Homo sapiens: one gene and its partner. The protein of the gene in region 2 interacts with the protein of the main gene of each other region in a pairwise test. Each region holds a gene or a part of one and is shown on either strand. Other genes may lie near its edges.

Evidence for each region. The genes of interacting proteins can lie anywhere in the genome.
Region 1: the proteins of AGO3 (region 2) and SLC22A2 interact in a two-hybrid assay, tested with the Homo sapiens proteins (one large-scale study listed by BioGRID and IntAct).

The regions. Positions count from the first base shown.
Region 1 is NC_000006.12:160,256,595-160,260,346, reverse strand, and holds the start of SLC22A2 (solute carrier family 22 member 2), read left to right. Parts: upstream 1-1,525; 5' UTR 1,526-1,589; coding exon 1,590-2,003; intron 2,004-3,629; coding exon 3,630-3,733; intron 3,734-3,752. UniProt on the Homo sapiens protein: Electrogenic voltage-dependent transporter that mediates the transport of a variety of organic cations such as endogenous bioactive amines, cationic drugs and xenobiotics. Functions as a Na(+)-independent, bidirectional uniporter.
Region 2 is NC_000001.11:35,937,461-35,941,112, forward strand, and holds part of AGO3 (protein argonaute-3), read left to right. Parts: intron 1-3,652.

The sequences.
Region 1 (3,752 bases), on a different chromosome or scaffold from region 2:
GAAGGAAAATCGGGTTAACTTTCTGGTATTTAGTTTGCAGATATGTCAGCAGGCCACCTTCTCTACTTGGCAGGATCACGATGTATTAAGAATCCTTTTGTCCACCAGGAAAGACAAATTTCCTGTTTGTCTTGCATTTAGATGCAACAACATCATCCTAAAGAGATGCCCCTGATGTGTGAGAGCAGAAAGGGGTGATCCCTTTCTTCCTTATCCTAAGGCTCACGGCCAACACCCCTATAACAAAAGACAGGTTAACAAGAGAAAAGCATGACAAATTTATTTGATCACGTTTTACATGACACAGGAGCCTTCATTCAGAATGAAGACCCACAGATACAGGGAAAACTGGATGGCAGTATAGAACTGTAGTTGGACAAAAAGGGCAGCAGCCCATGTTCGCAGGCTGAGGGGAAAACCCAGCAAGGCCTGTCTGTTCAGATCCGTCTTGGCCCCTCTGTGCAGCACTCCTTCCTCCAGGCACCGGGGACAAGACTCCTCTGGAATGCGGGTCTGGATTTCTTTACGGCCCACTGTTACACAGAAAGGCAGCGGGGAAGTTACAGTGGTATTTCTAGGCTTTCTGGCTGGCTTTGGGGAGAAAAGAGTCTGGTTTCCACGAGCTGCTTTGAGGAAGAAGGATTCTCAGTTCTATGGCTTGCCCCGGGGGAGAATGATGGGTGAGAGAAGAGACAGGAGGGCAGGAGAAGGTCAGAGAGAGAGACTTTGCTTCTGAGGCCTCCACCTTGGGGCATGGATTTCTGAGCCCCAACAGACCTTGACAGAAAAATCTAGGACACAAAGATAGTGGCTTGGACACACCTGCCTGCATTTACACTTGACCTGTCTGCGACGTAAACACTTTCCTCTTTCCCTCCAGATGGGTTAAGGGGAAGGACACTTCAGGGTTGAAACGCAGGAATACCAGATTGGAGCAAACACTTTTTAAAAGCAGAGTTATAAAATCTGGACAACATCAAAACAAGCAGCCCCAGCATGCATCCCGACGGCTCTTGTTGTTGGTTGGAGAATGAGCCCAGCAGTCAGGCTTGCAACCCACTTCGAATCTGGACCAGGGTTCTGACACGGATCCTGGTTCACATCACGCTGGGCCTTGTGGCCAAACACGTGTGTTTTCTCCATAGGGCCTTGAAGAAAAGCTGGCGGTGCGCATGAGATAGGAGTATATTAAGTTCCTGGCTGCTCGGGGCACTACGGGAAGATTACTGGGCTGTGATATGGGCCAGCACTCAGATTCCCTGCGGTGGGACACAGAGGGCGGGTTGTTTGTGCTGCTGGCGTGGAGCACCGACAAGCCTGTGGAGAACCAGTTATAATAAACACGACAGGCATCCTGGGAGTGAGCTCAGGGCATTTGGGAAGTGCAGAAGGACATGCACCCCCGCTGGAGGGGTGCACCTTTGAAGTCAGCTGGACCAAGGAAAGGCCCTGCCCTGAAGGCTGGTCACTTGCAGAGGTAAACTCCCCTCTTTGACTTCTGGCCAGGGTTTGTGCTGAGCTGGCTGCAGCCGCTCTCAGCCTCGCTCCGGGCACGTCGGGCAGCCTCGGGCCCTCCTGCCTGCAGGATCATGCCCACCACCGTGGACGATGTCCTGGAGCATGGAGGGGAGTTTCACTTTTTCCAGAAGCAAATGTTTTTCCTCTTGGCTCTGCTCTCGGCTACCTTCGCGCCCATCTACGTGGGCATCGTCTTCCTGGGCTTCACCCCTGACCACCGCTGCCGGAGCCCCGGAGTGGCCGAGCTGAGTCTGCGCTGCGGCTGGAGTCCTGCAGAGGAACTGAACTACACGGTGCCGGGCCCAGGACCTGCGGGCGAAGCCTCCCCAAGACAGTGTAGGCGCTACGAGGTGGACTGGAACCAGAGCACCTTCGACTGCGTGGACCCCCTGGCCAGCCTGGACACCAACAGGAGCCGCCTGCCACTGGGCCCCTGCCGGGACGGCTGGGTGTACGAGACGCCTGGCTCGTCCATCGTCACCGAGGTAAGAGAGTGAGCTCAGGGCTCAGATGGAGAAGCAAATGGTGGAGATTTTCTCAAGGAAGCAAGCAGGGAAGGCCCGGCTCTTATAAACCCTGCCTGGACATCTCTTTGGCCTGCATGTATCTTACAAAATCCTAGTTTCCAAATGAGAACATGCAGCTTCTAATTTGTCTGGAGAATAACTGGATTAGTTAAAACGTCCTCAGATGCTGACAATAATGATTCTAGTTTGTGCATGTCCCAGCAATAAGGAACAGGCCAAAGCATATTAGGACTCCTGGAAATGTTGCCAAGATAGGGATATTGTGGATCCTCCTCTTTTTCTGGAAGCCTTACCTCCCCCTCTATTCCTCCATCCCGCAGATGCCCACACACACCTGAAAGCCCGTGGAACTCAACTGAACTGTGCCTGACTGTGTGATAGGATGTGCTTTTCTCTCGATACCTATTTTTTCTCTTTAATTTCCTCAAAGTGTTCATATAAAATCATTTGGGGCTGGAGATCATGCTATGGCACTATTATTTTGTTAAAAACTACAGATGACATCAAAAGCTATTTGTGAAGCCTGATTCCAATAAATATAATAGAAAAAAAGACAAAAAATGGAGCTTGCTTTTATTGAAAGCAAAGCAAAATAGGGGAATTAAGTTACCTGAAAATACTGAGAGAGCCAGTTGCCTAGTTTAATTTAAAATGACTGCTTGGACAATGGGAAGATATTCTGTGTGAACAGATGGGTAGGTAGAGTCTAATTTGAAGGGTCTAAAGTGGTCAGATATTTACAGGAAATGTGGCAGCTCATGGGCTTCACACCACAAACTCTCCGAGGCTCTCTCACATGGCCAATCTCATTGCTTCCTACAGAGATGAGGAAACTGAGGCCCCAAGCAGAGAAGGTTTTTCCCCAGGCCACACAGTGAATAACTTAGCAGGGTTAGCCCTAAAAGATGGGTCTCCTGACCTGGTCCAGCACCTGCTCCACCCGACCACCTCCTCTTATTCCAAATAAGAGCAAATGCAGCAGCCTTCAGCAGTCACTCCTAATCCCCTTTTATTAAACAGACAGCAGGGAGATGCTAAATGGCCCAACCTCCTGGTGCCTGCATTGTATCACGTCCACACACCTATCTGCATGTGCATTGAAATTAGAAAGGAAAAAATAAATTTGTCTATAAGTAATTACCCAGTTTCAGCTGATTTAGCCAATGCTGTAGTTTTAGCTTCATGACAAATTGCCAGATGGAAGGGCAAGCCTTTTGGTTATGTAAAGAAAACTGAGGCTGGGCACAGTGGCTCACGCCTATAATGCCAGCATTTTGGGAGGCTGAGGTGTGAGGATCACATGAGCCCAGGAGGTCGAGGCTGCAGTGAGCCATGATCACCACTGTACTCCAGCCTGGGTGACAGAGCAAGACCCTGTCTCACAAAAAAAAAAAAAAAAGAGAGAGAGAGAGAAGAAGAAGAAAATTGGCATGATCAAGAAACAATGGCTTATTGCCACTTAACTATACAGTTCAATTCAAGGAATATTTAATGAGTACCCTAGCTGAGTTATGTCCAACAGGATTCTAACAGGATTTCATTTCCTTTCTCTCCCAACTTGGAACACTTCTCCCCTGCTGGCAGTTTAACCTGGTATGTGCCAACTCCTGGATGTTGGACCTATTCCAGTCATCAGTGAATGTAGGATTCTTTATTGGCTCTATGAGTATCGGCTACATAGCAGACAGGTAGGTTGAATCACCTGTG
Region 2 (3,652 bases):
AGCAGGCAGATCATGAGGTTAGGAGTTCAAGACCAGCCTAACCAACATGGTGAAACCCCATCTCTATTAAAAATACAAAAATTAGCTGGGCATGGTGGCGTACACCTGTAATTCAGCCACTTGGGAAGCTGAGACAAGAGAATTGCTTGAACCTGGGAGGCGGAGGTTGCAGTGAGCCAAGATCGTGCCACTGCCCTCCAGCCTGGACCACAGTGCGAGATTCTGCTCAAAAAAAGAAATAAATTGTTTCCCATACTGCCACCTGATAAGCTTAACCCTCAACTGGCTGGATGTTCTATAAGTGATTATTTAATTGTAATGAGCCTAATAATAAGTGCGGTATGTTTGGACAGATTCATTGAATGAAAAAGTGGAATTAGCAGGTAGGAGGTTCCTGAAGTTCCATGCTGTTTACTACGTAGCTTTGCAGACTTAACATGTATAAAATCAGAGACATTTCATTAAGTCAGATTTTGAGATCAACACAATATATTTCTTTTTCCAAAACAAAAATGTATTCTTTTTTTTTTTTTTTTTTGAGACGGAGTCTTGCTCTGTCGCCCAGGCTGGAGTGCAATGGCATGATCTCGGCTCACTGCAACCTCCGCCTCCTGGGCTCAAGCAATTATCCTGCCTCAGTCTCCCTAGTAGCTGGGATTACAGGTGCCCGCCACCACGTCCAGCTAATTTTTGTATTTTTAGTGGAGATGGGGTTTCACCATGTTAGTCAGGCTGGTCTTGAACCAGACCTGACCTCAGGTGATCCACCCTTCTTGGCCTACTGAAGTGCTGGGATTACAGGTATGAGCCACTGTGCCCGGCCCAAAAATGCATTCTTTTTCCAATTATAAAATAATAACTACATGTTTATTACTTTAAAAAACAAACGATATAAGAATGTCTCAAATAGAAGATGAAAGTATGATCCTATCCTCCAGATGAAACCATTGTTAACTCTTTCTTGTATATCTTCCCAGACATCCATCCGTCTGTCCATATATTTATCATACGAATTGTTTCTAACCTTCTTTTTCCACTTAGTAATGTGTCGTAAGTATCTTTCCCATATCATTACTTACATCTATATAATAGTATAATAATTTATACTGAGTACATAGCATTTAATTTTATCTGTATATTGATCAGTCTCATTGATAGTGGTTTAGATTTTTTCCAGTTTTTTGTTATTATGACTAAAACTTTGTAAGTATTCTAGTACATATGTGTTTGTATACTGGTCCAGTGCTTGCTTTTGGATAAATTGTTAGAAGTAGAATTATTGAAACAGTATTCCATGAATATTAAAGAAAATGTTTCCAGTGAAAATCTATAAGTTAGTAATTGGCTATAGTATATGTTATAGTTGATTTTGATTTATTCACTGCTTGTTTTTTTTCATCAGTCACATTTGCTGTAGGCTATTGTTTAGCTTTAGACTTTCCAACTGGTACACATTGGATTACTAGATGAGTGAACAACATGGACACATGTATGCTTTGGAAATGTATGGTTTTATGTTTGAAATTTAGTTTGGTTAGTTATTATCCAGTACATACAATAACTGCTGAAAGAAAAGTTTGATATAGGGAGAAAGTCCAGATAGTGCTTTGTATTTCTGTGTAGTTATATTTCCAACTCTAGTGGGCAGTATGTATTTGTTAAATAACTAAAATATGCTTCATTGGAAGTATAATTCATTGTATTGACAGAATTGTTTCATCTGCTAATTTACATTATTATGTAATGTAAATATTTCATAATATTCTGGATATTATGAAAATATCCAGAATATTTTCTGGATACTAAACTTGATTAGTATCTATAGAATTCTGTTCATTGCTTATTCATGCAACAGAATTTTGCTTTGTGCCAAATTATTTAAAAAGCACCAGGTAAAGTAATGACCATGGAGAAAAAAATTGACAGTATGATATAGTGTAAAAAACATGGGTTTTAGAGACAGATTCTGGCTCTTAAATTAACTGAAATTTATTAATGATGTGTCGGTATAGGTTTGAGTGCAAATGTTCTCCTCTTGTAGAGGATGTTGATAGTAGGGTGTCTGTGTGTATGTCAGGGCAGGAGGCCTGGGACATATGGGAAATCTCTACCTTCTGTTCAATTTTGCTGTGAACCTAAAACTTCCCTAAAATAGTCTATCAGAAAAAGTTAACTGCTACTTTGGGCAGTGCATTTAATCTTCCTTAACCTTAATTTTCTTATCTGTACAATGGGATAGTAAGAAGAGATGACACATGCAAAGGAAATGGCCATTTCTCTCTTTTTTATGATATTTTACTATAGAGAATTTAGGATGTATACATATAGGCAGAACTGTATAATAAACTCTATTGTACCCACCACCCAAACGCAGTCATCAACCCACGTCCAATCGCTTCTCTTCTACTTTTCCCTCTTTTATATTTTTGAAGCATATTCTAGGTATAATATGATTTTATTCATATTTAGTAGTAACTATAAAAGTTATGGACTCATGATATAGTACCATTATCACAGCAAAATAATAATCACTTATAAAAATTTCTAATCATTGTTCAAATTTTTACTTGTCTCACATATTATTTTTTAAACTGTTTGCCTTAAAAAAAAATTTTTTTTTTTTTGAGATACAGTCTCACTCTGTTGCCCAGGCTGGAGTTCAGTGGCATGATCTTGGCTGACTGCAACCTTCACCTCCCAGGTTCAAGCGATTCTCCTGCCTCAGCCTCCTGAGTAGCTGGGATTACAGGCATGCGCCATGACGCCCGGCTAATTTTTGTATTTTTAGTAGAGACGGGGTTTCACCATGTTGGCCAGGCTGGTCTTGAACTCCTGACCTCAGGTGATCCGCCCGCGTCAGCCTCCCAGAGTGCTGGGATTACAGGCATGAGCCACCACGCCCAGCCTAAAAAAAATTTTTGATTCAAAATCCAAATAAGTTCTACACATTGTGATTGATCGATATGTCTTTTAAGTGTCTTAATCGGTAAGTTTTCTCTCCTTGTTTTTCTCCTCTGCAATTTATGGGCTGTTTGTCCTTTTAGAATTTTTCACGATCTGGATTTTGCTGGTTCCATCTTTACAATTTAATTTAACATAATCCTTTGAATTTCCTGTAAACTGCTAGTGGATCCAAGGGCTTGATCAAATTCAGGCCATTCTTTTTGAACTTACTACAGTTGGGTTTTTGTCCCTAGCACTTGACTGGAATTGTTTTTATCAAGGTCAGCAAAGACTTAGCTAAACCCAATAGTTCCCAGATCTTCATTTTATTTCATCCACATCTAATGACATTTTCTTCTTGAAACACTGTTTTTCTCCATTTGGTTTTCAGGGTACCACTCTCTCCAGGTCCTCCTCCAACCTTGTTGGCTGTTACTTTTCCAGTTCCTTTGCTGTTTTCATTTCCCTAATTTCTAAATATTGGGAGTATCCTTGGGGTTAGTATTCTGTATCCATGCCACAGTCTGTCTGATCTCTAATCCAGTGGTTTTAAATAACACTTCTATGCTGAGGACACCCACATTTACACCTCCAGCCTGGACCTCTCCTCTGAACTCCACACTCATCTAACTGCTTACTATTCATCTACTTGTAGACACCTCAAATTTAGCATATCCTTAAAATCCTCTTGATTTCCCCTCCAAACTTG